Linked DNA regions of Homo sapiens: region 1 is linked to region 2. The links come from fine-mapping of genetic effects on gene expression. A gene starts in region 2. The other region holds a variant in brackets. All regions are shown on one strand. Distances are from middle to middle.

What was found. PIP is the estimated chance that this variant, and not a neighbour inherited with it, causes the effect.
Region 1: its variant is fine-mapped to the expression of LINC03015 in cerebellar hemisphere (GTEx, PIP above 0.99).

What each region holds. Positions count from the first base shown.
Region 1 is chr7:122,027-138,268 of GRCh38, forward strand. No RefSeq gene overlaps it. Among named protein-coding and RNA genes, the nearest start is that of LINC03015, 19 kb to the right of the region's middle. RefSeq lists enhancers at 11,788-12,290, 12,291-12,793. The variant T/C (reference allele first, on the strand shown) is at 6,100.
Region 2 is chr7:141,144-157,385 of GRCh38, forward strand. LINC03015 (long intergenic non-protein coding RNA 3015) reads right to left here and starts at 8,295. Exons shown (of 3, transcript NR_134325.1): 1 at 8,186-8,295; 2 at 7,389-7,475; 3 at 3,301-3,668. LINC03014 (long intergenic non-protein coding RNA 3014) reads left to right here and starts at 8,575. Exons shown (of 2, transcript NR_108065.1): 1 at 8,575-8,989; 2 at 12,266-14,322. RefSeq lists an enhancer at 8,026-8,320.

The DNA.
Region 1 (16,242 bases), 19 kb before region 2:
GGTACATCACACCTGGAGTGGGAAATGCCTCTCTCTTCAAGAAGCCGTGAAACCTCTTCTTTAACTTGAACTTATGTCAAATCCCAAGAACACTTAGACCATATTCTCCAGCCAAAATCCACAAAAGGAAGAAAATAATAGCAATTGTAGAAGCAGAAACCCTAACATCCTGAATAACAAGTAAGCAAACAAAATGCCTCTTGAACAATTCTTGGGTCAAGTGGGACAACAGAGTCCAAATTTCAGAACCACCACAAATAACAATTATGGAATATGATCTATCAGAACCCGAACAATGTGACTAAAACTGTCTCAGAGAAAAATTCACAGCGATAACAATTACGTTAGCAACAACCAAATACAAACAAGTAAATTATTCATTCAACTGACAAAATTAGACTCAAGAAAATAAAAAGAACAGGATAAATGTAAGAACCAAGAAGAAGAAAATAAGATGGTAAAAGTGTGTGATTTGAAGCAGGAGACTCAAAAGCGTGCTCGTGTGGTGGGCCTTTGAAATTCACCAGTGAATAAGCCTGTGTCTACCCTAATTCAGGAACTGTGAGGACGGCATGGACACACACGTGCACACGAGTCTAACGACATGGGAAACAGTTACGACAGAAGCACACACAAGTGCATAATTTACAGATTCCATGCAAATACTTTAAATTCTAAATAATATGGGTGATTATCCCAGGCAAATATGAATTGCCCCAACTAACCAAAAGGAAACAGAAAAGTAAGCAGACTATTATTAACCGCAGAAGAAATTGAGAAATCTATTAAAACCCAGCCCACTCACCTCCGAAATTCTACGCCCAGATAAATCACAAATTCACTAATTCAAAATGCTGGTGCACCAATCTTTACAATATGATTAAAATTTCCTATTCATGAGCATAAAGAAAGAAAACCCTGTGTTCTTCTTAGGATTCCAGCATAATATTTGCACCAAAACATTGAAAAGTTGCACATACACATGAAATGAAACATACCAGCTATGGTAATAACGTCCTCACACATTACTTCATGTGGCAGATTAAAGACTCACACGTGTAACGACCACCTCTCGGCTTCAGTTGAGGTTTCCAAGCACTTTAAAACAAGTTCAGTATTAGGAAATCTACCAATATAATTCAATGAAATAATACATCACAAAACAACCACTTCACCAGGGCAGGAAAGGCAGACAGCGTGAGCCACAGAGCAGCCAGCCATGACGGAACCATGTGCCATCACACTTCTGCCCCTGGGGGACCCCGGAACCCCAGAAATCAACCCTAAACCAGGCCCACCCATCCCAGCAGCACCCAGGGAGGCCTGGACGGTCACCACACACCCACAGCCACCATGGCAGCAGCCAGCATTCCCCTGCTGGGGGCAGGCAGTATCCGCTCCTTGGAGGGTGAGATGCCTCAGACCTGGGTGGGCCTCATCCATACACTTCCCAGCAACCGTGCATCTCGGCTGGCAGCCTTCACTCCCGGAGGGGTGGGTACCGGGGTGGAGGGACGGCATAGGGTGATCCGCAGCTGCCCTGAGGGTGCCCCAGCCTGGCTGTTTACCTGAGCCTGTTCCTTTCCCCAGAAGACCAAAAAATCATGAAATAAGAGCTACAAAGATGGGAAAGAGGCAAAATTCCCATATTTTGCAGATGGTTTGAGATTGATCTGGAAAACACAGAGGATCAACTGCAAGGCTGTAAGAAACAGGAGCACTTAGCATAACAAAATGAACACTAGTCAATAGTCACCGATATCCACTTAGAAAACAGGAAAATAAAGGGGGAAAATCTCATTCACAATAGCAGAAAGACACATAAAATCCTGATGGTGGGGAATTCAGTGAGAAAGGTAGAGTTGTTGAAGGAAACGGCAAAACTCTCCTGAGGAGCATTTTAGAAGCAATAAATGGAGACTTAGATTTTAGACTAGAAAACGCACATTGCAGAGTTGGGAAGACTGGATTTTTTTTTTTTCATTGAGCATCTGTATTTCTATACATGGAAAAGGACCATAAAGTTATTTTCAATGAGTTACTATTATTATCATTATTACTGTCATGAGAGGCGAAATCTTACAGCTGATGATTTCAGGCAGACTCTAGTGCCGGGCCTCAAGTCACAGGATCCTTCTCCCCCACCTCCTGGCCTGATCCTTTTCCCATCTCTGAGCCTCAGTCTCCTCCTCTGTGAAATGGACACAGTGACGGTAACTCCTTGGTGGCCTGAGGACAGGTGCACACGCAGGAAGAGCCCCACCTGGCGGGCGCCAGGAAACCGCAGCTCAGCTCCCACTGTCAGGTGTGTCCTCCGGTGGGAAGGGGCAGGCGCAGGCGGGAACAGCCCCTGCTAGCTGGGGTTCAGCAGGGCCATGCTGTGCAGGGATGGGGACTCCTGGCTCAGGGACCTGCTTCCCGGGTCCTACACGGGCTTTATGCTAGTTTATAATATGACTTGGGGCAGCCGCCCCCCCGAGGCTGGGAGGAGGCCTCAGGAGATGGGGATCACTGGTGATGCCCGGAGGAGGCAGCTTGCAAGAGAGTGGGCTCAGCAGCGTGGGAAAAGAGGGGCCAGGGTGTCCTTCAGCTAAATGAGCTGCTTTTTCCCAGGGCAGCAATGGTGCAGCCTTTGGCACCCAGCTTCTCACTGTTGGCACCAAGAGAGCCTCTGGGCAGTGCGGGCTGGTCCAGTAAAGACAGGGGCCTCAGCTCTGGGGCTCAGCAGGCCTCTGCTCTTAGCCCCACGCCTGGAATATGAGCTTCCCATGCCTGCCCCTTGAGGTCCAAGGTCAAAGTCAAGGTCAGCCTGCAGACGGTTGGGCTCGGGCTTGCTGGTGATCCTTTCTCACTGGCCACAGGGGAAATAAACGCTGAGGATAGGGCTGCTGTTCCCACTCACACACCGGGGCCATCAGGCCTCCCAGGGGAGACACTGGCAAGAGCGGATGTGATTCTGGGAGAAATCCCTCTGATATCCAGTTCTCGCCTTGCACAAAATAAGGGAAATTAAAGGTTTCAATAGTACTGATTAGACGAGAGTTCTGCACGGCTGACTGTGGTGAGAACATTCCCATGTAAGCTGGCTGCTCTGTTTTCCAGGCCTGATGCGATCATTTGTGCAGAACCGCCTTTAATATTAATGCTGGCGGTGGGCCCCGTGGCCTCTCTGACTCTGCCTCCCTGGCCCCTCCACCCTGTGCTGGCATCCACCGAGGTCTGCATCCTGCATGTGTGGGCCACTGTCCCAGGGGTGGGCTTCGAAGAGACCCTGCTCCCCTCCAGGCTCCTGGCAGAGTGCATTGGTAACCCCTCTTAAAGAGACACGGTGGAAAGAGGGCCTCCACCCTCCTGGACATCAGGACGAGACGTAAAGTCTCCGTGCTCCTTCAGCTGCACGCAGATCGTCACTTTGCAGATGTGAAAACTGAGGCCCAGAGGGAGAAGGGGGCTGTCAAAGATCACATGAGGAGCCTCACGCAGGGCCAGGACTGCAACCCTTTTCTCTAAACATACTTTTAAATTAAAGTGTGTGGCATACCCAGGGATTATAAAACACAGATATTATAAATGTAGAGCTTCATAAACTGAAAACACTGGTGTAAGCCATACTCAGATCAAGAAATAAAAAGCTACAGGCCCCTGGAAGTCCCTCAAGTGCCTCTTCTCATCAACATTCCCCAAAGAATAACCACTGTCCCCACTTCTGAGAACATGACATCATGAATTCTGACATCAGGGCTCTGGCATCATGGCTCTTGACCTCATGACATCGTAACTTCCTACATCACGACATCATAACTTCCTACATAACGACATTGTAACTTCCTACATCATAACTTCTGACATCACGACATCGTAACTTCTGACATCATGACTTCTGACATCAGGTCTTGAGGCATCATGGCTTCTGGCACCATAACCTCTGAGATCAGAGCTTTGGCATTATGACATTATAACATCTTTTTTTTTTTTTTTTTTTTTTTTGAGACAGAATCTGGCTCTGTCGCCCAGGCTGGAGTGCAGTGGCGCGATCTCGGCTCACTGCAAGCTCCGCCTCCCAGATTCACGCCATTCTCCTGCCTCAGCCTCCCGAGTAGCTGGGACTACAGGCGCCCGCCACTGTGCCCGGCTGATTTTTTTGTATTTTTAGTAGAGATGGGGTTTCACTGTGTTAGCCAGGATGGTCTTGATCTCCTGACCTCGTGATCCGCCCGTCTCGGCCTCCCAAAGTGCTGGGATTACAGGCGTGAGCCGCCACGCCCGGCCTCCATGATCTGTTTTTAATGGAATCACTTGGTGTGCATTCTTTGGCGTCTGATTTCTTTCACTCAACATTGTGTTTGTGAGATTCATTCATTCTTCTCATTTACTCCCATTGTTGTATTTGATGGTGTGACCAGACCACGGTTTATCCATTGGTGGACATGTGGGTTGTTTCCAGTTTGGAGACTGTCATGAATAGTGTCACTCTGCGTATTGCACATGCCTTTTGGTGAACTTGTTTGTGGATTTTTCTTGGGTATATACCTAGGAGCAGAATTGTTGAGTCATAGGCTAGGCGTACATTTAGCTTTAACAGATATGAAGAGACAATTTTCCCAAATCATTCTACAGCCTCACAGTTCACATCCACTCTGACCAACAGAAGCAGTTTTGGTTGATCCACATCTCTGCCACCACCTGCTATTCTCAATCTTCTACCTGTAGTCATTCCATTCATTGTGCATTATATTAATTTTCCTAGTTATTATCTGATTCACAGCAAATGCTTAGCTTACTAATTATTAGGTTTTCTGACATTCTAATTTTTGCATTGAAGTCACAAATTTCCATCCAGTTACGTCCTTACCTGTATCCCTTCTGTACCCCTGAGTGCAAGCTCTGGGCCGGGCTCTGCCTGGGAGAGCTTCCCTGGGTGCCTGGAGACCCTTGTCCCCCCAGAAACTGGGTCTTAGATCTGACAAGGAAGTGTGTCCCTCCCTGGGCCCAGCTCCCACTATAAAAGACGCAGGTGCCCATTCTGCCAGGGGCAGAGGGTTCCTCCCCGAGCCTGGGCTCCTGTGGGAGCCTGGGGACCCCTCTAACCTGCCACCATCCAGGGACACATCCCAACTCCACTGCCTGGCTCATGTGTCTGAGGAAGGGAAACACTCTCGTTTCGAGGATCGCAGGGTCCACCCTGTTCTTGCTCTAGACTGGGAGTGGGTGAACTGCCGAGACACCGGCCCCAGCTCTGCTCCTCAGCTAATCCACCCTCCCTGGACGTGTCCACCCTCTGCTGCCAAAACGCACAATAGCAGCACAGCCTCTCTGTGGCACAGGGCTGACAAGATCCAGTGATGGGGACTCCCCCCAAGAGGAGTGGGCACCTGGGTGTGTGCCGCTGCAGGTCGTCCGTCTGGGTGGGCGACTGGGTCTCCTCACCCAGCCCTGCTGAATCTGTGGATGTTGATCCTTTAGAAAGTGGCCGGTCCAAAGGGTAGTTGGTGACACAGCTCCAGACCCAGAGTCCCTCACACGACCCACACAGAGTGGCCCTGGGCAGAGAGCTCTTCCCTGGGGCCACCCAAGGGCACTGCCTTCATCTGGGGCTGGGGGAGACCATTCATTGGAGTTGTTTTCTGGGCACCTCCGGAGTTTGTCATATTTTAAGATGATATGAGAAGATCTAATTTATTGTACATATTTTATTTTTATCACAGATCACTGGTTGAACACATCTTTCTCTAGAGATATGTGATACCATTAACCCCTGCTGCAAACACATACAATTATTTCATAAATTCCAATTCTTTCAAGAGTAATTTATGTTTTCCCTGATATAATTGATGATTGCAGTTGTGCCACATGTTTTCAGTGATCATAGCTTCACACTGTGGTTTAATTTCTGACAGGGAATGCCCCTCCTAATATTCTTCTCTTAAAATGGCTCGTGCTTCTTCAAGCTCAGTTGCTTTCCAGATAAGCTTTTGAATCCCATTAGCATGTTTTAAGAGGGCCAAATATAATTTTGTTTCGACTTTATAAGTTCTTAAGTCAGGGGAGGATTAGTCTATTTGCTCATCAGCCTTTGTCTCCAGGGTGATGACATGTCTC[T/C]ACACAGGTAAATTGTCTTAACCTCAGCAAGCCTGGGACCTTTCCCCACATGAAGCCTCTGCTTTAATACTGTTCTTAATACAGTTCCCGGCTAAGTTCATGTGTGGGTTGTTAGTATTGAGAACAGAACTAAGTTTGTCCGTATTACATTTTCTAATTTGTTACTGACTTTGTAGAGGAAATGTGTTCACTTTATGCATTTATGTTGTCATTGTTTTTACCGTGTATTTCCTCTTCCTGTCGTATTGCAGTGCGACCCGCTGGGTGCATCACTGAAGGAGATGAGACCAGCCTAGTCCTAGTGACTGCACAAGGCAAGAGGCTCCCCTCGATGTAACAGCAGGTGTTGGGAGGGTCTCCTCTCAGTCCCATTTGGGAGGACTAGGGCTGACCAACTGTGTACGTTTGTGCAGTCCAAGCTGTATTTCCAGCACTGCGCAGATTCACTGGGGTCGAAGGGCACGTCCCACCTCTCTGCCTAACCTCCTGGCTGTGTGGCCTTGTGGGAGGCAGGCATGGGTCTTTTCCAGCCACAGACACCACTCCCACTGCCCTTCTAGCCTGGCCCTGAATCCTAGGAATTTCACTCACAGCCAAGCATCTGGGATCCTTGGTCCAGGGTGAGTGCAGCAAGATGGGAAAGGGCACAGCCTGGCAGCCTCGGGAGAGAGCTGACCCGGAAAACCTGCCGGTGGCCTCGGAGGAGGGTGTTCCTCGGAGGGCAGGGTCGTCCTCTGATGCCGTGCTCAGCCCTGACCCTCCCATGACCCACCTGCTCTGTGCTCACTGGAAATTCCCCAAAATGCATCTCCGTGGGGCTCAACTCAGTTAAAAGGGAGCAAGTGAGCATCATGCAGATGGAAGCCTGACACAAACACCTCCCTCCGTTGGCCGTGCTTGGCCGGGGTGAGGACAGTGCTGAAAGCTCAGGGAAGGCAGAGCCCTGGACGACCACCCTTGCTCCTGTCTCAGGACACAGAGCCCTGGACGACCACCCTTGCTCCTGTCTCAGGACACAGAGCCCTGGACGACCACCCTTGCTCCTGTCTCAGGACACAGAGCCATGGACGACCACCCTTGCTCCTGTCTCAGGACACAGAGCCATGGACGACCACCCTTGCTCCTGTCTCAGGACACAGAGCCCTGGACGACCACCCTTGCTCCTGTCTCAGGACACAGAGCCCTGGACGACCACCCTTGCTCCTGTCTCAGGACACAGAGCCCTGGACGACCACCCTTGCTCCTGTCTCAGGACACAGAGCCCTGGATTGTCTTAGCCAGTGGTCTTTCCTTGCACAGGAAACAGGCCATGCAGAGACCCTGGCAGGCCACTGCTCCTCCCTGGCCTGGGTTGCAAGGGACAGGGGCCCTTGAGGATGGCATTCCTCCTATGGCCCTCGGCCTCGGACCCCCAGGGAGCTGTCTCCTGGCACTTCTTGGCAAGTCCACCCCATGGCCATCTGTGTTGGCTCAAGGCTTTCTTTCCCGTCGTTCTTCACATCTGGTGGCCAGGAGTTCTTCCCTGAAGATCTGGACCTGCCCATAGACCTGGGCTGGATTACAAAAAAAGAGGAAGCTGGCAAAATCCGCAGTGTGTCTTTTCCTCCAAGGACATTTAAAAAATACATGTGGGAAAAATCAGAGTTTCAAAAATGGCAAGTGTTATGAAATAAAGTGCACACGTCCTCTTTTCTGCACGAAACAGAAAGCACGCGGTTATTTTCAGCTCCCGGAGCTCCACTGGGAATAGGGTGGTAGAGTTGCCAATGTGTACACAGAAGGGTTCTTTTTTTATCAGCTGCTGAAGGCTCCAAGGATGGAGTGCGATTCTAAAGGGTGCATTAAGGCAAACATTGAGCTAACAGAGCGAAGGCTGCCAGCCAGCGGCGGAGATGGGCGTCCCTGGAACGCCTCCGCTTCCCCGGCTGCCCCGCCGCACTCCCAGGCTCCGCTGCCTCATGCACAAGGTCAGGATGCTGATGGGAAGACCCTGGGTTCCTAAGGAGGATTTGATGAGAAAACGCACAGGAGGTGCCAGCACACTGCCTGCCACACTCAACAAAGGCCATTGTTATTATTGTTGCTGCTATCATTAGTGTTCGTCTGCAGATTCCAGGGTGACATCACTTGACTCATTTTTTAACTGTGTATTTTGAGATAATTTTAGGCTTACAGAAAAGTTACAAAAGTTGCAAAAGTTACTTCTCCAGGGACCAACAGCCTGGAGGAGACCCTGTTCCTTGTGGAAACTGGCCGCACACCTCCTGCCTTGCACAAGATGTCAGGGAAGGGCGGTGGCTTTGGAGGCTTCAGGGAGTGAATGTCGACGGGGTCTGCAAGAGCTCCCAATGCCCAAGCTGGAGAAATTCTAGGAACAAAATAAATAATCGTAGCCCAGATGCTCCTGGACTGGTGGGGCCACATCCTGACAACCCATCGTAAGTTTAATATACCCCAGGGACATGGATGAAGCTGGAAACCATCATTCTGAGCAAACTATCGCAAGGACAGAAAACCAAACACCGCATGTTCTCACTCATAGGTGGGAACTGAACAATGAGAACACTTGGACACAGGAAGGGGAACATCATACACCAGGGCCTGTTGTGGGGTGGGGAGAGGGGAGGGATAGCATTAGGAGATATACCTAATGTAAATGATGAGTTAACGGGTGCAGCACACCAACATGGCACATGTATACATATGTAACAAACCTGCACGTTGTGCACATGTACCCTAGAACTTAAAAGTATAATAATAGAAAAAAAATACCCCAGGTCAAAATGCATTTAATGCACCTCATCTTCCGGGCATCATAGCTGAGCCCTCTCACCTCAGACATGCTCAGAGCGTGGATATGAGGCTGGCATTGGTAAAATCATCTCACACAGCTCACAGCTGCCTGAAGATGCTCACTCACCAGCTGCCAGCATTTCTGGGGCGGTCCTGAGAGGGTCTGCAGCTGGCGCACGAGGTGAACACAATGCTAAGGACAAAATTACACAAGGAATGTGCAAGAGTTCCACTGTTCACAGTGGGAATCACCTAATTCACACACAACCAGCTTCACAAAATGAGCTCCAGGCGGCCGGCTGGAGGGACGCGGAGGCCAGCAGGTGGAAGCCAGTGTTTAAAGCCACAGGTAGACGCGGCCTCAGCACCTTCCCGTTTGTGCCGGCCCAGAGGCACTGCCTGAGCACACCACCTGGGGAGGCTGCAGGTCTAAGCAGCCTGAAAGTGACCCTCACCAGGCCCTGAAGCCACCACTGGGTCGGGGGCCCAGCCTTCCTTCCAGTGCAGGGGCCCCACCCCAGCCGACTGCAGACTCAGGGTGCAAGCTTCCTCTGCTTGGGTACTCCTCGAGGTCCTCCTGGGCGTCCTGAGCTCCTCTGTGTGCATTTCCTATGCTGTTCACAGTCCTACTGCATGGCCCAGGAGGGAAAGGGAGGGGAGGGGAGGAGGAGAAGGGACTCTCCTTGCTCCCAAACTGCTGAACACTCAGCATCTGCCTCCTTTCTCAGCCAAAGGAAGGCCCTCGCCAAACACTCCTGACTATTGCAGTTGCTGGTCACCTACTCCTGTCCCACTCAATGGCTGCCCCCCGTCAGCCACCTGTGGCCCAGTGATCAGCTCACCTCCTGCACACACCATGTGGGCAGCTCACCAAGCCACCCTCCCCACCATTTCCAGGAAGGGCCAGGACTCACAGAAAACAGGCTTGTTTGTGAGCCACGCGGTCACTTACACTTTGCAAAGCGGCGTGGGCGCTTCTATTCTGAAGCATCCGCCGAGGCTTGGAACACACCCAGCCGGCAGCTGTCTGCTCCACTCGCTCCTCTGTTTTGGGGAAGGGCCTCTGGCAGAGGGAGTATGAGGCCTGTGGTTCTGACGGGAGGAACAAGGGTGTCTGAGGGACCAGGGAGGAGGGTGGGAGACTGTCAGGGGGACTTGCAGACCACAGTATTCATTTCTTACAGCCCCCGGACAATGTGGCAGCTTGAACAACACCCATGTATTATCACAGTCGGAGAGGGTTGGCTCAGCGGGGTACTCTGCTCTCATAGGCCAAAGTCAAGGTGCCAGTGGGCCGTGCTCTTGTCTGGGGCTCGAGGAAAGAACATGCTTCAGGCTCACTGGGGGCTAGAGGACTTCTCCCTGTGGCTGAGGGACAGAGGCCCCACTCCCCTGTGGGCTGTCAGCTCAAGGCTGGCTGCATCCGCCTTCTCAAAGCCAGCAAGGGCACCCTGAGTCCTCCTCACGCCGAGTCCTCTCTGCCACCCTCTTCCGCCTGCATCCAGAGGACGCTCTCTGCTGTCAGGGCTCCCCCAGAAACCAGGATAACCTCCCTCGTTTAAGGCCAACTGTCCAGAGAACAATGTGCCTCAGGGCGGCCTCTCATCACACTCAAGCTTCTGGGGGTGAGTGCGGGACATCCTTGGGGGCCTCCATAGCCATCGTGAAGGTGGCTTTTCCTGACCTAGCTGGATGGGGACCTGCTGGAGAGACGGGAGCTGAGAGGGGTCTGAGCTGACATGTATTTTTGGAAGAAACCTCTGGCTGCTGTGTTGAGACTAGACTGGATATAGATACAGCTCATGTATATTGTTCATTCACAGAGCACTTTCACCAAACACCCACATTCCAGCATTCCTGAGTGTGGCCTGCTACCTCAGAACAGAAAGCGGGAGAAGGAGAGCTATATCATCATCTTTCTGTCTATCTATCCATCTATCATCTATCTATCATCTATCATCTATCATCTATCTATCTACCTATCTACCTATCATCTATCACCTATCTATCTATCTAACCTATCTACCTATCATCTATCATCTATCTGTCTCTGTCTCTATCATCTATCATCTATCTATCTATCATCTATCTATCTGTCTCTATCTATCTATCATCTATCTGTCTCTATCTGTCTCTATCATCTATCTATCTGTCGCTATCTATCATCTATCTATCTATCATCTATCACCTATCCTCTATCATCTATCATCCATCTATCTATCATCTATCTGTCTCTATCATCTATCATATCTATCTATCTATCTATCTATCTATCTATCTATCTATCTATCATCTATCTATGTGTCTCTGTCTATCTATCTATCCTTCTGTCTATCTATCCACGTGCCTTTCTGTCTGTAGACTGGAGGTGGGTGGGAGGGGCATGGCAGCCATACAAAACAGGTACAGAAGTCACAGGTGACAGTGGCTCCATCAGAGTGGTGATGGTGGAGGTAAGAAATGGTTGTGTCTGGAAAGATTTTTAGACCAGCGCTTCCCAAAAGCCCTCTCCCCGCATCCCCCACCCCCACCACCTCTGACACCTAGCTTTTTCTTCCATAAGAGTCTGGCTTAGCTTAAACTTCAGGGTCATTCTGATTTACAATACGGCAAAATCCTGTAAGCAAAGATGCACAAAGACTGCAGGCCTGAAATCAGTGTGAAAAGAGAGTATAAAGGGAACACGTGCAGTAAAGTATTTCAACACATTTACTCTGTGCACACGTCTGCAGCCTCAGCCGCGCTTCTGACCTCAGGTCCAGCCACACATCCCGCCCCCGAGGGAAGGATTCAGACCTGGAGCCCTTTTTCTTGAGGAGCTGGGCAGTGGTGGGCTGGACAGCAGAAGGAAGTCCAGAAGCCAGATCTGCACAACGGGTGGGGGTCGGGGGTTAGGGGTGGGGGTGAGGGTGGGGGTCGGGGGTTAGGGGTGGGGGTGAGGGTGGGGGTCGGGGGTTAGGGGTGGGGGTGAGGGTGGGGGTGGGGGTGGGGGGTGGTCCGCAAGCCCAGGGAAGCAGGAGTGGGGTTAGGCACGGAGATAGGGAAGAAACGGGACAAATTCAGAGTGATGCTCTGTTTATGTGTTATTTATTTATGTATTTATTTTGAGCTACCACAGATCACAAAGAAAACAGCCGATGATGGCTCATGAGGGTGTCTCAGGGAGGCCGTCGGGGCCCCTGCACCTTGAGTTGTTCTAAGGTAGGGAGGAGGGAAAGCGATCAGCCTGCTGGTCCCTTTCCATTGCTCAAGACCCTGCCAAGCAGCCCCTGGCCTTTGCCCAAAGTGGAGACGATGGAGGGCTCAGGACGACGGGGCGAGGTGCTCAGTGCAGAGGAGGGAGCCTGCACCCACTGGGGTAGAGCTGATGGCCTGAGCATATGCGGCACCCACGGGACAGAATGCTCTTCCCCCATCCTTGCCCAGGTTGCTGGAGCTGACACCCAGGTGAACGCGGCTGGGACGAAACAGTGGTGAGCGGCCACTAAGCTTCTGTCCCAGTCTCCGTCAGCTGACCCCACCGAGAGCACACACTTACCCAGGAGAGAATCACACCCGGCCCTTCTGAGTGCTGTGGCGCCTTCAGACTTTATTCGTAGCAGATGCCGTGAGGACTCTGCCCACATTTCTCTGTATCCACTGACCATTTTTATGCCCCCGAGCCCCAGGTCTCTCAGTCCCAGCATCCGGCTTCTGAATCTTGCAGGCCCCCGAGCCCCAGGTCTCTCAGTCCCAGCATCCGGCTTCTGAATCTTGCAGGGGCTGCCCTCTGGCCACAGGAACCTCTTCCCTGGGGTTCGCTGAGCTCCTGGAGGGCTACGCTGTCTGGGAATTTATAACCCTCAGACAGTGAATGACAGATAAGACATAGAGCACCTGAGCACCCCCCAAACCAAAGGGCACACCTGTGAGCAGTGACAAGCAGCCTCCCAGTTCCTCCATGAGATGGAGCCGGAGTGACCCCCACAGCGTGCGGCCTCCTCCCCACCCAGTACCACCCCCCATTCCCACAAAGGGGTCTTCCAGGGAACACATCATTTATTTATACTGCTTCCACACAAATCCTCGTCTTGGGTTTGCTTCTAGAACCCCAGACTGAGATACCAACCCACAATCACGCCAGTGTTCAAATTCCATTCCCACCCAGGTGCCGAGGACGGCCAGGTGAGCAGCAGAGGACGATGACAGGAATTCTGAGTCCGCCTCAGTGAACAAAGCGGCGTGTGGCACACGGTCATGCCACGAGCCTGAGAGCAGATTGCAAAGCAAAGCGTGTAGTGCAATCCAACTTTTGGAAAGAAAAATAAATCCTTTATATATGACGGTGTAATAAAGAATTGAACCTTGCCCAGAGAGACCTGGCCTCTTCCCCCAGCTTCTGAGAGGTGGTCTCTAAGCCACATGGGACGGTCTTGGTTTGCCTGGGCCTTTGGACCACACCAGGAGGCCTAAAGTGTGATTCAGGTAGGGGTTGCGATGAGCTCACCCTCGAGTGAGCTGGAGACCTCCATCCGCATGGGCAGTCAACCATGGGGCCCCAGCAAAGGCTCTGGGACACTAAGCTCGGGGGATCCCACCTGGATGCCCCAAGTGACACTGCCCACAGCTCTGTGGGGAAGGACCCTCTGCAGGTGGGAACTTCCTGGACTCCGGCCTGAGCGCCTTTCCCTGGGTTGATAGTCATCTGTGTCCTACCCTTGTGCTAAGTCATGACCATGAGTATATCAGCTTTCAGTGAGTTTTTCTAGCGAATTATCAAAACTGAGGGTGGTCTTGGAGACCCCTACCCTTGTAACTGGTGAAGAATTGAGGACAGTTTTGTAGATTATGGTTCCCTCTAGCCCTGCAATGATGTTGACTGTAAGTACATTAAAGTATTTGTTAGACACTGGAAAACGATATGCAAAATGTAGGAAGTGGATGCCTCTGGGCTGTAGGATCATGCATAAGAGTGTATTCTTGTGTTTTCTATTTATTTTGTGCAAGACACGGTGATTACATACAGTGGGAGCTCCCTCAACCAACCTCTGCTCCAGCAACTCACATAATCTTGGTCAAAATGGGCTGGATGACTCAGTGAGCACAGGGGGCAAGGAGGCTGCTCTCTGCTGGTCGTGGATTTCGTCAGTTGAGATGTGACCAACCGGGAGACACTCAGGTTTGCTCCAAACCTGTTGATGCCACCTGTGATCCTTACTAGTGTCAGAGGCATTTGAACCAGAGCGACTCCATCTTGAATAGGGGCTGGATGAAATGAGGCTGAGACCTGTGGGCTGTAACCCCAGGAAGTTCAGTGTTCTTAGTCACAGGATGAGTAGGAGGTCCGCACAAGGTACAAGTCACAAAGACCCTGCTGATAAAACAGAATATGGTAACGAAGCTGGCTGAAACCAAGACGGCAACGAAAGTGACCTCTGGTCACCCTCACTCCTCGCTATACACTAATTATAATGCACTAGCATGCTAAGAGACACTCCCACCAGTGCATGACAGTTTACAGATGCCATGGCAATGTCAGGAAGCTACCCCATGTGGTCTAAAAAGGGGAGGAACCCTCAGTTACAGGAATTGCCCACCCCTTTCCCAGCAAAATCTTGAATGATCCACCCCTTGTTTAGCATATCATCAAGAAATAACCATAAGTATATTCAGTTGAGCAGCGGACATCACTGCTTTTCCTACAGAGTAGCCATTCTTTCATTCCTTTACTTTCTTAACAAACTTGCTTTCACTTTATGGACTAGCCCCGAATTCTTTCTTGCACGAGGTTTAAGATCCCCTTCTTGGGGTCTGGATTGAGACCCTGTTCCAGTAACACCATGAAACTTAATTCAACATTATGTAACCTATTACATATCAGTGCAAAATGACAGAAAGTTGTTTCTACATAAACCTAGATAAGTGATTTGGGAAAACAAGGTCAAGGTAACTTGAGGCTGCTTTAAAAATTGCTTTTGAATTAGGTATAGACAAGATGACTCTTAAAAATGAAAACTAATTGGTGAACGTTTGGAGAAATTCTGGTCTTAGATTGTCTTAAAATGTGCCCAACTTCTTGGTCCACTTTAAAAAATATGAAATTGGGTGGCTAGGAAGGAGAGTTAAGCCTGGGGTTTACACTAAAGAAGAAGAAGAACTTCAATCAGCAGACCAATGCTAAATACAAGCTTGTCCCTATATGGAAATATCTAGATTCATGAATGGAGCCAGAAGTGGCCAGATGGTGATGACGACCAGAGGGAGGGTTGGAGGCCTGGGACTGGGGCGTTGGCTAGGAAGGGGTGGGAATATTCATGAATGGAGAAGTGGCCAGATGGTGATGACGACCAGAGGGAGGGTTGGAGGTCCAAGACTGGGGCGTTGGCTAGGAAGGGGTGGGAGGGCCTCTCTGGAGTCACAGAAGCCTCATGCATCTTGACCAGGACGGTGGATGCATGGCTTACATTGGTCACAACTTGTCAACTTGTATGACTGAAAACTGAACATCACATTGAATTGGACTCAAAGGCAAGACCTGAGGCAAAATTCATGTAAGGAGGGAGTTTGGGCGAAGCTTGAGGACTGCTGCCCGGAAGCGTAGATTCAAGTTGCCCTGAATACACCTCCTATTAGCAGCTGTTACAGGTGGGTTTTTCAAGGGAAAGAAGAGGCTGTTCCAAGTTGTTGACCAAGGATTTATGTTAAAGTAACATAATCTATTGCTTGGCTCTATATTGTTAAGCCGTAGGGTGTGAGTTGCAGTGTCTGCTGCTGCACTAGGAGGTTAACCTGAGGCAACAGCCAGCGTTTCAAGAGACGAATACACAGCTCCAAGGCGGGGAGTGGGAAGTCACTGCCGCCTCACTTGACTGCCTCTCTGGGCCTGATCGTTTAAAAGGACTTGCATCATCCCTCAGCACAATTTCTTTCCTTTTCTCAATTGTATGAAAATTATACCTCAATAAGTTTACTATAGAAATTAATGAGTAAATATGTATAAGTTTTCAAGTTAAAAATATATGTAAAATATGTTTGCTCACTTTTTTAACCTATCTTCATTGGTTTTAAAAATTAACAAACCATGATGGCTTTGGAAACATGTTCTTCCATTTGTTACTTTCATAATGAAAGAAGAAATGTATTTTAAATAACATTTAAATTTAATTTTTTCATTATCATCTGGGAAGCCCCAGCCCTTTATGAAAGGAAAACAATGTCCACTTTAGAGTTAAACTTGCTGATGGAAAAACCAGACTCCGTAGAATATTTTAAAGAGGTTATTTCTGAGCCAACAGGGGCAACCACAGCCTGGGAGACAGGCTCCAAGGAGTCCTGAGAAAGGACCTGAGGTCGGGTTGCAGTTTTTTTTTA
Region 2 (16,242 bases):
AGTGTGGACCTGCCATGCATGGCTGTATGTCTTTGCCTATAACTCCTGCCTCCCTGAGATGTCAAAACCAAACTGCAATCCGATCTCCTCAGGCACACGTTCTCAGGACTCGCTGGGACCGTGTCTGTCTGGCTGTGTCACTCACTGGCTCAGAAGAAACCTCTTTAAAATATTTTACAGAGTTTGGTTTTTCCATCAACAGAGAAAAGACTTGGAATATGCAGGAAAGACTTGATCAATTTCAGGTGGTGGGCAGAATGCTTGTCACAGACGCACCCACTGCAAGTCTGCACAGCTGAGTGGAAGGAGCTGGTGCCTGACACTGTGACCCGAACTCAAAGGGCCACTCAGGCAGCACAGGCTGGTTATCAAGGGCGTCACTCCACCACCTCCAAAGCAAAAGGGACGTGTGGAGGACTGTGCTGCATTTTGTCTCAGTATTCATCAGCCTGGAGATAGAAATGTGTTCCTGTCGGGGGCGAGCCTTCCCTGTTGGACGTGGGTTTCTGAGGTTGTGTTCCCATTGGGGGTCAGCCTTCCATGTTGGAAGTGGGTTTCTGAAGTTGTGTTCCCGTTGGGGGTGAGCCTTCCATGTTGGAAGTGGGTTTCTGAGGTTGTGTTCCTGTCGGGGGTGAGCCTTCCATGTTGGAAGTGGGTTTCTGAAGTTGTGTTCCCGTTGGGGGTGAGCCTTCCATGTTGGAAGTGGGTTTCTGAGGTTGTGTTCCTGTCGGGGGTGAGCCTTCCCCGTTGGAGGTGGGTTTCCGAGGTTGTGTTCCTGTCGGGGATGAGCCTTCCCTATTGGACATATGGGTTTCTGAGGTTGTCTTCCTGTCGGGGGTGAGCCTTCCCCGTTGGAAGTGGGTTTCTGAGGTTGTGTTCCTGTCGGGGGCGAGCCTTCCCCATTGGAAGTGTGTTTCTGAGATTGTGTTCCTGTCGGGGATGAGCCTTCCCCATTGGACGTGGGTTTCTGAGGTTGTCTTCCTGTTGGGGGTGAGCCTTCCCCATTGGAAGTGGGTTTCTGAGGTTGTGTTCCTGTCGGGGGCGAGCCTTCCCTGTTGGAAGTGGGTTTCTGAAGTTTGCTGTTGGAAGCAGAGCTTGCGTCCATGCTCACAGCAGCACCAGCCGCAATCAGTCACTGAGGTCTGTGCTGGGTGTGGAAGATGAGAGTGGTACCACATGTTCCTCAATCTGGACTAGAGGTTTGTCTGTGATTAGCGGAGACTGGCCTGCCAAGAGCCAAGGGCGCTGTGTTTGCATGTACAGCAGGCGTCTGATACGGTTCTGGGGCAGACGCCAGCCAGGCCGAGCAGGCAGCCTCCACTGCTCCGTGCATGGGGTCAGAGTCCACAGCATGGGACCTGGTCCCTGGGCAGGCCTGACAGACATCTGTGAACCAGGAATGGGCATATTCCAGGAGGTCTGGCACAAAGCAAAGTCATTGTAGACTTTGGCAATTGCATTTGTTCCAGATAATACATTTTCTTAGGACCTAAGGCCTCAGAACTTAAAATGAATGTTGTAAAGTTTGAAGCCAAAACAAAATGCAGACAGGCTGTACCCAGCAATTCCTGACTCTGCAATCTGGGCCTAATTCAAGTACTCATCTCCATGGCCTGCCAAAACCCTCCCACCGGAGCTCACCCTGTGGTCCAGTGCTCAGCACCATTCATACCTATGTTCGGGGACAGAAGCCACTCTGGGGACTAGGAAGAAAACACGTAAAGGAATTGAGCTTAAAATAAAAAGAAATTCGGTATATTTCATACCCACTAGCAATATGCCTTTAGAAAGAGACAGGCTGGCAACTGCACGTTGGGAAGGACGCACAGTGACTAGAACTCTCGTTCCCTACTGCTGGGAGTGCAAAACGGAACAGCCACTCTCCCGACTGCCCAGCGACCACACTCCCGGGTGTTTACCCAAGAGAAATAAAAATCGTGTCTGTAAAAGAATGTCTATCAGCCTTATTGATAACGTCTCCAAACCCTGATTACATCAAGTGTCCGACCGCAGGAGGACGGACGAGAACGGGTGGCCCTTCACAGAACAGGCTAATTCTCAGCATGTGGGAGCACTCGTGCGTGGAAGGCCAGGCGTGTGACACGTGTGAGCATAGCGTGGGCAGGACGCACGTGAGGGCAGTGGCGGCTTCAAGCACAAATCCTAGGGACTGGGTGGGTCCTTGGAGCAGCAGGCCTGGGTGAGCCTTAGTGGACTCCTCTGTGGCCTGTAGGGGGGTCTCTGCCCTCATCACACCCAAGGAGACCAGGAGACCCGCACAGATGCAGGTTCTCCTCAGTTGTCTAGTGGAGGACTTCAGATTGGAAAGAAACTCTCAGCCTGGCAGCCTCACAGTACTGAGGAGGCCACAGGCCCAGGAAGGGCCTCACTATTGGGCCCCACGCTGCCGGCTCCTGGTGACCTGCGTCCCAGTACCTGGTCTGGTTTCTTTTCCCAGACTTTGGAAGGTCCCCGTTGTCTGCAGGGGGTCCCAGCCCTGCCAGGGGAAACCCCCCAAATCCGAAGGCAAGGGAACGCCCAGGAGAGGGAACCTGCTGTCCACGCTGCAGAAAGGCCCGCAGTTCTCCTGTCTTCACAAGATGCCTGACCCCGGCTGAGTCACCTGAAATCTTTCCAAAGCACCCTCAGCACACATTAGGGCACTTCTCCCTGTATTTTGGTATCAACCTATTTCCCCTACCCTGCCTCAGTCCTATTGCTTCTTTGTGAACTTTGCTTAGAGAATCTTCTCCTGAAGTCTGCAGAGGAAACTGGGGCGCCCTCAGATGCTGTGTTCACACTGTGTGTGGACACACAAGCATCCCCTTGGCCACCCCCAGGCAGGCCCTGCAAGTCGGAGGCCTGAGGGGAGAACCAGTGTCCCCGAGACACTCTTGCTGGTCGGAGACGCCTGAGTGCTGTGACCAGGCCACACACAGAGACTGGCGCTGCAGCCCCTGGAGGGGAGGCTTCAATCTTCACCCAAAGCAGCCATCAGTGGGACTCACCCTGGGCTGGCCTGACCCAGCACAAAACTATAGTGTCGAAGAAATACAGGAAATGAAAAGAAACCTAGAATGAACTGAAACCAAAATGGGGGGAAGATGGAAATATTAACTACCCAGTATGTAAAACTGGTTTTCACACTTTTTAACGTTTTATACATGGCACTGCCTGTTACCCAGGCCCCGACTCGGCCCCTCCCTGGCCTGCTGCCTGCGTTGCTCCTGCCCGTCATTCCCTCCCCTCAGCCTGCTTTTCCTCCAAAGCTCTAGCTAATACCTGAAATGACAGCATGGATTTGCTTATTTATTTATTGGGCTGCCCCTCATACATACGAGCTGCAAGAGGGCAGGGTCGAAGCCTGTCTTGTTACAGGGCCCGTGGTGGAGCTGTACAAGTCACACCCTGCCGAGGGGAGCACTCTGCTCACCAGCCGCCTGGAGGGGCACACGTTTCCCACCCCATTCACCCAGGGGAGACCTTTTTCCGTTGCGTGCAGAGGTTCTGTGTGAGCTGGAGGCGGCCACGGGCCAGTCACACGGATGGTGGCTCCGGCTGGTGCCCATCCCTTCATATTCAGGAGAGACGGACTGTCTGTGAGACATTCTCACAGGTGCTCTGGGATACACGCCATGGCTGTACCTGGCCTCAAGTGGCTCATCGTGCTTCAGGGGATACAAAATGGATACACAGATAACTCTAATACAAAATAAGGTCTGAGGGCAGGAATTTTGGAATATTGTCATATTTGTTTCTAGAGTTATTTTAGAAAAGCTCATATTGTGGGATTTGGATGAAAATTCATCATTACATTCTTAATAGACCGATTTGGGGGGCAAACTGGAGTCCTTTTGTAACACTGGTTTGGATAAGGGAATTTGAAATTACCTCAAAGAATAAGCAACAGTTCTAATTTTCATTCCATTTAGGTTCAGAAAAAGGATGGAGGTAGAAAGTCCTCTCTCCCAAACACTATGATTGACACTGCAGAGTTCTGCAACTCTCGTACGAGGGAGATTTCATGATGATCTCAGTAACCGATCAGAGAATCAACGACTGACTTCGCTGAGGCACGGTGATGAAAAGGTCAAGGTGGTCTGGTCTGAGTGAAGTCACAGCAAGAACCCTTGTCCAGGGCCATTCTCACCTTTGGGGACAGCTCCTTCCCTGTATGGTCCTCATGTCACTGCACTTTCCTGCCTTGTTTCTTGCTGAAGCCATTATTTCTTAATTCCTTAGTAGATATGCAGAGCGGACATCCCAAAGAAGCTAGAAAAATTGATGAGCAGGGAACAGATCAAATCCTCTCCATCAGTGGAAGGCAATTCACGAGGGAAGAAGGCAAGACCATGGGGTAATTTTTCTGAGACTTGACAATGTTTGCCAAGTAAATAAATCTGCCATTTAACACTACGATAAAAGCTGTCATAGCCAGGGTATTAGTGACTACTTGAGGTTTGAGGACAATGAAGACAGAGTAAGATAAACATCCTTACTATCCAGAAAAAAAAAACGGAACCAGAAGACAGCGCTTCTTACTATCCACAAAAGAAATGGAACCGCAAGACAGCCCTTCTTATTTTTCTCCATCTTCGATGGTGAGGAAGAATAAAAAAAAAGTTGCTTTTAAAGTATATTCATTAAAATCAAATTCTATTATCATACACACAAAATATTTACGTGAAACCAGCCACAAAAGAATGACAAGGAACGCTACTGATTTGTCCATTCTGGGGGATAAGAACACAGATTCTTATCTCACTCTTGTTAAAAGAAAACTTCAGCTGAATTAAATTTAAAGGAGTTTAATTGAGCAATGAATGATTTGCACATCGGGCAGCCCCCAGAATTACAGCAGATTCAGAGAGACTCCAGTGCAGCCACGTGGTGGAAGATTTATAGACAAAAAAAGGGAAGTGAGGTAGAGAAACACCTGGATTAGTTACAGGTTGGCATTTGCCTTATTTACACACAGTTTGAACATTCAGCAGTGTATGAGTGATTGAAGTACGGCTGCTGGGACTGGCCGAGACTCAGCAATTGTGACAGGTACATACTCCTAATTTAGGTTTTCAATCTTGTCTACCTATTAAGTTAGGCTCAGTTTGTTCACAGGGACTCCAATACAGAAGTACGGAGTCCTTCTCAGGCCATATTTAGTTCGCTTTAACAATTCCCCCTTTTTGGTCATTTTATCAGTTTTGAGAGATTGATCGAAACTTGAGTTATTGATGTCACTGTCACCATTGGTCTTGAAACCCACTAGGAAGCAGAACAGTGAGTTTTGCAAAGGTAGGAACAAGGACTGAGTTGAGGATACCACCTTATGCTGGAAAGTCCTGTTTGCAAGAGAAAAACAAAACCTGGTCTATTCTAGGACCCATGTGTTTCCTTAAAGTCTTAATTCGATTATGTCACATTTAGCACGAATGATGCCATTTTGGTTCGGTTTGGTCTGTTGGGACCTAGTGCTCAGTCCAAAACAATGGCCTCCCATCATTTTGTTTAAAAAATTCCCCCTTTGTCAGGTTGTCACTTAGGCAAGAGTGTGACCAAAACTTAGGATGTTAGCGCCACTCTCCGTTACTATCATTTTGGATTTCCAGTCTCAGCATGTCACTCATCGGTTTCGGTGTCCTCGTGGTCACACATTTCTTTCAGCTCTTGTCATTCCAGTTGAAGAGAGACCATCTGACGTTCTAAAGATGGCTTCATGCAAACATTTAAAACCTTTGAGAGAATACAGTGCACCAGGGAGACTATTCTTATGACTACTGAGAGGGTTAACACCAAGAATTTGGAGTATGCTCCTTAGCCAGGGTCCCCATAAACCAGACCACCTAAACTCAAATAGACCATTCTTTGACTTAACTCAGTGGTCTTTTCGTTAATTCCCTACAACAGACTCTCTATAACACCTGATGTTTTCTCCATAGGCCTTAAGTGCCAGCATCTGCACAGGTACTTTCCTGTTTAGCCAATTCTATTTTTTAGCATAACTTTCACAAGAGAATTTAACATCTGTTGTGTAGCCTTTACAGTAGAATCTGCTACAGAGTCTACCATGAGGGATATGTTTCTAGTCATTGCCTTTTTAATTCCAAACCATGGAAAAAGGACCTAACAAATGATGCCCTTCTAGAAGAGGGAAGGCCTCTTGGCAATGGTCTCTTTAACCCATGCTGTGGGTTAAGAGGAGTGAACCAATGTTCTGCTTCTGAATGATTATGAGGCACCATATGTACCATTGAAGTTTCTCACCTATGATACACTGGGCCTTCATCTTTATCTATCAAGTTATAAGATTATCCATGTATAAAGCTGGCTGCAAAGCCCTTCACAAATAAAAGTATACCCCATAAGTGCACAAAACAGACCCCCTTCTCACTTCTGTTGTTCACAGAGGCGGAAGCAACGGAAAAACATTCAAAGATAAGAGTCTCATGATAGTAAGAAGTCTTGATCCATGATCTTCAGAAAGAGCTGCTCACATCAAGGATGCCATCTTCTTCTGGGGAGAAACTTCCCTGATTAGCTTTACCTTAAGGGTTTCAATGGATGTAGAGTTCCAAGAGTGACCCTGCTCAGTTGTGAGATTATGACCCCAAGGTTCAAGATCCTGATGTTTTGTTGCAGTGATGATGCCAAGGGCAGCGTTTCTCTGATGTTCTCAGAAGATCCCATCTTTGGGTTCTAGATTGTGAAGGGGTTGATTGTCCTCAGTGAACCATAAAAAGCTCTTTACCTGGTGAAAATACACTGATACATAGTAATCTACTGTTATAACATTAGCCCTCCTGCATGGGAAAGCTTTAGTACAACCAGAACACATACATTGAAAATGACAACTGAATGAAACCCCTTTATAAATGTTTAAATGCCTCATCAGGTAGCCAAATGTACATGAAGCTTTGATTGACTTCCCAGGAGTATGGGTTTGACAAACTAAACATTGTTTATAAACTATTTTAACAATCTGTAAGTCACCACACCAACATATTTAATTTGGATCATTTTATCTTTTCCAGGATGAGTCATGGAATGCATAACTTTTAATAACAAAAGCTTTAAGGACTCACGAAGGACAAGGCAGCCATCTTGGTTCTCCATGAGTCCATGCTTAACATCGGACTTATGTCCTCTTGGGTGCCAGTTGTTTCTCCAAATTGGGCACATAGCATGGATAACTGATGGGTTATCACAGGTAATTTGACTTAGACCATGGAGTTCATTCAAATTGTATATCTAAACAATTTCAGTATAGGCTGATTAAGTATGCAAACCTGGTGAAGCATTTCCTCGGTATTCAATTAATTTTTATTCTATTTGGGTTAGCAGTTTTATAAGCCAGTCAGTCTTTTCATTAAAGTTTCAGCAATTCTTACCCAGTCCAAATGATGTGATTTTGAAGTTACTAGAAACCTGTATTCCACAGTGCTTTTCAGGGTCCTCCCCATCCGTTCACGAACCTCCTAAAAGACACCATGTTCTAGGATTTTTGTGTGCTTGTGAAGTTTTCAGAAACTACATCAGCATGAAGCAATTAACTGCGGAAATGACTTTAAATACTCAAAAAGACACAATTGACAAAGAAATTTGGTTATAACAACAACATAACCATAATTATGATCGGTAGCATATACTCAGAAAAATTAGAATTTTAGAAATCCCATACAACTTTGGAACATATATTAATATCATTCACTAAAATATAACCTGAAGAAGGTTAAATTTTTTTTTTGACACTATTCTGTATCGAAAAGTCCAAAATGTTTCTTAAAAAGTAACTAAAAAAACACTGGAGTAATTAAAGGACACTTCCTGTGCAGGGGATGGAAAAATCTCAACAAAAAAGGAGCGCAGAAGAGCCTGGCTAGGCGGGAGAACACGGTCAGGCCCGCAGGAGACGCCGCGGCACCTGCCAGAAAGAGAGCCGCAGGCCAAGACCAGGAGACGCGAGAGAGGTGGGCAGGGCTGCCCGAGAGACCCAGGCGGCCATTGCCCGCCCTGCGTCTGCGCCTGCGCCGGAGCCTCCTCCACACTGCGCCAGCGCCGAGTCCGGCCGCCTCCTCATTGCGCCGGCGCCGGGGCTTCCTCCACACCGCGCCTGCGCCGATGACAACCCGCCTCTACAGGACGCCTGCGCAACGCCATAGTCACCTCATCAGCTCCGTGCACTTACGAGTCTCTCTCTGATCGACCACGTGTTCCTGTCGGCTCACAGAGGCCGCCTCAGGGTCCTCCCCCATTGTCTTCCTCGCACCCTCCACTGTTCCCGGCCCTTCACTCTGCGCTTGCGCAGGAGTCGCTCGCTCCTCTCTGCGCCTGCGCAGAGGCCACCTCCTCCCCGCCCGTCCGCTCCCTTGGCGTCGTCTTGGGCCGCGCCCCGACCCCTTCTGTTTACGCATGCGCAGGAGCCGCCCTGCGCGGGTGGGGGGCTGAGCCCCTGTGGCTTCAGGTTTAAAGGCGCGAGCGCCACCCACGCAGGCACAAGGGCTCCTAGTCGTTTTATTTTTAGCGTAAGGTTTTCCTCTTTAACAAGGAAGTAAAAAAAAAAGTTGTGCAATAAATATTAATCGTCCTTATATGTACTCGGGAACGTTCGTCCTTTAGGTTTTCTCCTGGCGCATGGGCGCCGCCAATCATTTCGGGGCTTATTTTGGTTCTAAAGCCCGGGGCAGCCAGGCCTCCCTGCCTGGCCTCGGCGGGGACGCGGGACCTGGGGCCCCGGACCGGGCCTAACCGCCCTGGCCGGTCCCCACTGATGGTGGCGGTCGGTCCTGATCGTCCTGATGGCAGCGACCAGGCTGGACTCGGGCTGTGCAGGGGCGAGGGGAGCAGGGCGGGGTGACGCCCGGAGAGCGGCCTGGAGAGCGCGTGCTTCAGAAGGCGTGGGCACCCTGTCCCCTTTGCAGATGGGGATGCAGGCCCTGGTGGCGGTGGAGGGGAGATGGGGGCAGGGACGTTGCCGGGCAGAGGAAGCTGGGTGAGTGTGCACTTGGTCCCCTTTGCTCCTCCCTGGGACTTTGGGCTCTATAGGGCAGCCTCCGAGGCCCACGTGCACACTCGGTGAACCACAGTCCAGACACAGGCAGGGCGGCAGGCCAGGGAAGGAGAGGCCAGGTGTTGGTGCATGGAGAGGCCAGGTGTTGGCCTGGGGGTGCTAAGTGAACCCCCAAGGTCGCGGAGACAGTAGGGCAACAGCAAAACGAGCTCTGCCGTCCAGGGCGAGGGCCCGGAGTCCTCCCCAGGGGTGGGCTGCAGAGAAGCCCCTGTCCAGGCCCTGCTCACCTGCAAAGTGCTCCCGAGCTCCTGTGCCCCCAGCAGCAATCCCAGCCCCGCTGACACCCAAGCTTGTCACCCGCTGGGTTTCTTGAGGTCTGAGGACCGTGGCTGAGGGTGCATGGGCGCTGGGATGGAGGGGGATGTCCTGTCCCAGTCTGTGCTTATTAATTGTTAAAGAGGGCAAGGCTGCTTTTATTCAAGGTGGGGGGGCTGCTAAAGCGAGATGTTGGGTTAGGGGAGGCAGATCCGGCTCAACTCCAGATAGAAAAAGTGGGAATTGACAGCCCAGGCGTAGGGTCGGGAGTGGAGAGAAAATTACTAAGAGGAAGGGTCAGGGGCAAGGCGGGTTCTAGCTGCATAGACAGGATTTTTGCTGAAAAGGCAGGCAGTGTGGTCACAGACCGAGGGTGGGAGTTGAGGACTTTGATCAGGGACCAAGAGTAGACGATTTTCACTAAACCGACTCAGCAGGATTCTTGCTAAATCGGCCGAAACCGGCCAAGGTCAGGGACTGGTCACAGGGAGGGCTCAGAGGAGCCTGACTCGAGTGTGGTCAAAGGAGAGAGTCTTTGTCATCTTTTAAGAGGCGAGAGTGACGTATTAGTGAGAAACGGTGAAGGGATCAAGCTCAGGCCAGCAGCCCCGAGTTTGAGATGAGGACAGGCTGGGTCCAGGAAGGGCTGCAGGAATAGGGGGCACCTGAGCCTGCAGAAAGCGGGGAGCCCAGCCGCCAGAGCAGGCACCCCCAGGCAGACCTCAGTGTGTCCTGCCCTGTGGGAGTGGCAAGGCCAGACCAAGCTGGATGTGAACCAGTCCCAGAACACCGCCTAGAATTTGGATTGTAATTTGTTATCGATGATATTGCTGCTTGGTCTCTCTCCTCTTCCTCCCCACCCCCACCCAAGATGGAGTCTGGCTTTGTCCCCCAGGCTGGAGTGCGATGGCAGGATCTCGGCTCACTGCAACCTCCGCCTCCTGGGTTCAAACAATTCTCCTGCCTCAGCCTCCCAAATAGCGGGGATTACTGGTGCGTGCCACCACACCCAGCTAATTTTTGTATTTTTGGTAGAGACGGGGTTTCATCATGTTGGCCAGGCTAGTCTCAAACTCCTGACGTCGTGATCCGCCCACCTCAGCCTCCCGAAATGCTTTGGGATTACGGGTGTGAGCCGCCGCGCCGAGCATGGCCATCGTGGCTACATCAGTCCCGGCTAATAGAGATTTTAGCACACTCAGATTCTATTGGCTAATAAGATTTAATTATAATTCTGGGGTATTTAACAATGTCGTTATACAGTCTTCATTGTTGCAAATGGAGAATGAAATCGGGTGCATGTGACACTAATATGACCTGTTCATGCTCTGTCACTTAAACGGAGTTAAGTAACATAGCCCTGAGCAGGAAGACTCCTTCCCCACTTCTGTCCAGGAGCTCCTTACTCGATTCTGGGGAACAGAAAGGCTTTCAGCGGCCAAGGGGAGTGACAACAGCCAGACATGAGACACCTCCTAGAGCCCTTTGGTGTTACCCTTTCCGGTCCATCAGCCACAGTGTCCACCCCAGGTAGCTGGGTCCTGAGTTCACCGTCTCAGGACATTTTTCGACCTGGTTTGTCTGAATTATTATTATTATTGATCATTGAGACAGGGTCTCAGTCCATCGCCAAGACTGGAGTGCAGTGGTGTGATCCTGGCTTACTCAGCCTCCCAGGCTCAGGTGATCCTCCCAGCTCAGCCTCCTGCGTAGCTGGGACCACAGGCAGGCACCACCATGCCTGGCTAAATTTTTTGTATTTTTTGTAGAGACCAGCTCTCGCTATGTTGTCCAGGTTGGTCTCAAACTGCTGCCTCAGCCTCCCAAGGTGCTGGGATTACAGGCATGAGGGACCAAGCTCAGCAATCTGAATTATTTATGCAGAATTTTTTTTTCTCTAGCTGGAAGAGCTGTTTATATGCACGTTTCTTTGGGGGCAACTCTTCTCCATTGTCACAGATTTTTTTTTTCCAAGCCATTCCTGGGGGATTCCTGGGAGCCATGTGGGAGAGGCGTGAGGAAGTGAGACCTTCACCCCGAGACAGGTCCTGACACACCCTCTGGTGCCTCTACTCAAGTGAGGTGAGAGGGGAAACTGGTGTATTTTTAGATGAAGTTTCCTTGGGAAATTGTTTCTATTTTATATTTTATCAGTAATCCCCTGGCTAATGTTTTAAACCAATATTTATAACACTGCCTCAGAGCTTTGGAATAAACAGATTTCCATAAAGAAAAGCTGCTTTAGAGTGCTACACTGTAAGAGGGGCCGGGCAAACAAGAAGGGACGGAGGAAAGACCACCAAGTGAGAGGCACAGGTGTCAGGACACACAGAGAGCCCGAAAACGAGGCAGAGGTGAGCGGGGACCAGCAGCACAGCGGCACTGACGCGCCAGGGACTTGGGCTCTGCTGGCCTCCTCCCTCGCGGCCAGCAGTGGCAGTGGTGGGAGTAGGCCTGGCTTGTCTGTGGTTGCCTTTGTTGCTTTAATTGAAAGTACTCAAGGCTATTTCTTGTCGCGTCATTTCTGACAGTGTCCGGTGGTCCCTACCCTGTAATGCCAGGAGGTTCCAGCCCCACCCTTCCCTCCCCACTCCCTCTTTCATCTCCCGGATCCTATTAGAGGATTGCTTTTATAGCTGATGAGCTGATGAAGTATGCATTTAGCCCTTTAACCGTAACTGAATTTCCCCTGGTGCACATCTGTATGAAGGGTGTGCACCAGGGCTGAGCCGTCTGCTGGGCGAATATGTCCCTCCCTGAGGCCCAGGACCACAACCCCTGAGTCACTCAAAGGAATCGTTCCCAGCCTTAAGGTCAGATGCGCTTTCTCCTTGTCCTCCATTATTTCTTTAAATTCCTGCCACATTTAAGTTTCTTTATATTTAAACTAAGACCTTTTATTTCTTAAACTTCTAATTGCTGTTCTTTTATTATTTTTGATAGAAGTTTGGCTGCTGTAACTGACTGGGAAGCTTAAAATAACAGACAATCATCTCTCACATTTATGGGGACTGGGAAGTCCAAGACCAAGTTGCCATCTGGGGAGGGCCTGTTCCTCACAGCGCCTTCCAGCTCAGGCCTCGTTTATAAGGGCACTCAAGCCTTCCACGACAACGGGTCCTCATGACTTACTCACCTCGGAAAGCCCCACCCCCAAGACCATCACATTGTGGGTGATGGCAGAGCATAAGGTGCCTTCCCCACATGCTCGGGTTGGCCCAGCGTCTCACGCTAGCAGCTACGTGGAATAGTTATTTTTTCTGGAGAACTCTGGGACCCCTCTGATGTCTTGGAGCACCCACACAGGCCGTTCACTGTGCACGCTGTGAGGCTGTCGTCTTGGAGCACCCACACAGGCCGTTCACTGTGCACGTGGTGAGGCTGTCCTCTGGGGAGTTCTGCTGTTGTATGGGTTCTGTCTGTGTCAATGTCCCAGCGGGAACGCAGGGCACACTAGCGTCATCCCCAGAGGGCTTGGTAAGGGGACTGTTTGCAGAGACATAGGCAGAGGGCTGGAAAACTACCAAAAAAGTGCAGTGTTCTGGACCTAATAATAGCAGAGCTATTCTCACCCTGGTCTGAAGGCAGGAGGGGAGGAGCAGTTAATGGATTCTGGAAGTCAGGTTGCACAGAGTCACCTTGAAAGATGCCATGACCTTCACCGAGGGCCAGACAGAGACTAAGATGACCCCATAGGAGAATAAGACCTAGACCTCATCCTCCTGCCTCCTGCCAGTCCCTGCCAGGGGTCGCCAATGGCAAAACAGGACTGGAAGCCAGAGGCCATGGAAGCCCATGGATGAAGTCCACAGGCCAGCCTCCCCGAGAGCAGCCTGGACGGTCCGCAGGAGACGTCTCCTGTCTTAGGCGTCCCACGCCGCGTGCTCCTGTTCAGCCCTGCCGAGGTGGAAGCTTGGAGTGGCTCACGGTGGATGCATTGACGCTGCAGACGCCAGCAAGTGCTACAAACCAGAGCTGGCCTTTAACTCAGACTGATGGAGAAGGTGTTAATAATGCAGATTAGACTTAAAAGTGTTGAAGCCATTGCACTGTGAACAGCAAAAAAATTGAAGAACTCTTCTGGCATTTAAAAACAATTACTCAGTTCAGCAGAGAAGTCACTGACAAACGAGATCACACTGACTGCTTTGTCGTTTTGGTTTTGTCTTACTCATTAATGCAAATAAGAACATTCACTAGCATCTGTGTCGGGCCTACCCTCCCTGGTCAAATACAGCTACAGTCTCCCTGCAGAAACGAGTTTTCCAGAAATGAGCCGATGTTTTCTGCGAGAATCAATTGGTCATATACAATTTACAAAAATGAGTACTGTATACTATATTTGTAAACTGTACACTGCAGATGCTTTATTTCACTGAAATTTATAATACACTTATCCATGTATATGCATGCATGCATTTTTGTTCCTGAGATCCAGCTGTGAAATGTTTACCAGCACATAAATTACCAGCACATGCTCTTTTTTGTTAACCTACTAGGTAAAATCTTCATTTATTACATCAAATTCTTGTAGTTTTTGTATTGCAATTATGCAGATATTGATTATCGCAGTATTACTGCAATTATACAGATACCACAATTTCAGATATTGATCAGCGTGTTCAGTTGGTTTCTAAGGAGGTTTACTTACCTCATGGTACACCTAGTTTGCATAGTTTGATTATATTTAACTCTTATGCTAATTGGGGGAAGTCATTGATTTATTGGACAGATGCACCTGTGGTCTTCCCTGAGCACATCCTGGCCAAGGATGCTGCCCCCAGGAGATTTGAGAAGTCCTGTAAGGATCATATCAGTATTTTCAAATACTTATAGAAAAGCCAGAGGGATTGACCCAGAATTACCAATATAAGCTTGACCCTGAGATAACAATGCCATTTTATGTTTGCATGCATAAAACCAATGCAAGAGGCTGATGACTCCAGATCCCTTATATAAGCCAATAAAAAGTAGTTTCATTTTTTATTTCATTTAAAAAAGTGTACCATTAACCTAAAGCCTGCTTGTAAAACCAGTTTGTTTCTGAAGCATTAGCTCAAAGCTCACTTGCATTTGGTGAGAAGTCCCTCACGTGTGGCTGCCCTGGCTGGGAGCTCTGAGCTCTGGGAGCCATTGGAACTGCTAATCCCACCAGTGCCGTCTGATTCCCTCTGCTCTAATGGAGGTCTTTTGCCGGGTATCCAGTGGCATTTTCTGGGCTTGGGAGTCAGTAATTCCCAGTGATCAAGTGTCTCTGCTCTGAAAATGCCTTTCTTTGTGATATGAAGCTGTCAGTGATGGAGACTGACCTTTTCATAAGTCAGTGAATTTTCTTTCTCTGAGTCATTTTAGAGAGTGAATCTGAACTCTCCAGTCTGTCCTAAGAAGACATTAATTGGAGCAGGCATGGAACCTTCAGCTTTCCCAGTCACCTGCCGGGTTACTTGGCTTAACCTGGGAATTAACCAGTTAATAAGGTTGTTGAAATGGAAAGAATCCAGGAGGCTGCAGTGTGAGGCTGATTTGCTGTCTTTATTAAGTGAGGAAATGAGAAATGGGAAGAATCCAGGAGGCTGCAGTGTGAGGCTGATTTGCTGTCTTTATTAAGTGAGGAAACGACAGCAAAGCACTTCTAGGCTTCTCACAGCTGAGCACACGAAGACTAAGCCCTCTTCCCGCCGTAGCCAGTGAGGAGAGGATCCCTCTTCCCAAGCCCCCTCAAGCAGTGGCTCCCGCTCACTGGAGGCTGGAGTTTCTAGGGCTTGTCCCTGTCCAGAGCTGCTGCCTCAGGTGTGAGGGTGACTGCCCAGCCCCCGCGCCACAGGCCCTCCTCTCACCCGGACCTCAGGACCAGTTGGTAGGCCCCAGGCTTCCACCTTCAGGGGCATGGGGACGCTGGCCCCTGTGTCCGCCGAGGACGTCCTGGCTCCTTTTGGGGGTCTCTCCTGTCAGGACAGGTTCCGTGGGGTTGGAGGGACTCAGCCTGTTTCTGTGCCATCCGCCTTTAACGGCCCAGAAACGTTAGTGACTGAGAGTAAAATAAGGTCGACTTCACAGTTTCTTTCTCCTCAGCAGTGTCTGGGGGCTGGTCCTCAGCCATGACCGCCGGCCCTGGTCTGTCATCATCCTGATAATTTTCCAGAACTCCACCTGCAGCCGTCATCCTGGGCGGCCCTGCTCCATCTGTACCCTCTGCCCTGCCCTGGTCCTGGACCTGCTCCGCTCTGCATTGCGCTCTGCGGGACCTGAGAGGTTTCTCAGCAGGAGCTGAATAGTGTTGAAAAGGCTTCCAGCCCGCACCTCAGTGGGGCACTTTTCTTCATGGGACATGCGGGGTTGTCTGGGCTGGAGAACACAGATTTGGGGGCACTCCGGAAGGTGGCAGAAGGTTGGCCCTACACGGGACCCAGTGGTCATCTCTGCAAATGCCGGGGCTGGGCTGTTCCTGCCTCAGAGGCCTCCCTCCTCCAGAGCAGGGGTGGAGAAATCAGCCTGGAGAGCCTCACGGCGCAGGAGGGATTTGCCGGGGCTGCCTCTGCATAGAGCCCCCTGCAAACAGAGGAGCTGTTTTATAGCACTGGATTTAGCTTGCAGGGTCCTGGAACACCTAGAGACACCAGAGGGGGAGACCGCAGATGAAGACCTCCTGGACGGCCGGGCAACCAGTGGCAGTCCCACGAGCCACGGGGCCGTGGCCAGCCTCCTTTCGGGACACAGTCCAGCCTGGAGGGAAGGAGGGGACAGGGGACCTTTCTGATTCTTCTTTTTCCTTTTCCTTTGGAATGAGAAAACAGCCTCTACGTTCTCCCATTCACGTCTGTCATCAGCTGAAGGAGCTCTTCCCCTTTTCCCCACTGACTCTGCACCCTCCACGGGGACAGCCTTGCTTTCGGGGCACAATGAAAGAAACATGACTGGAG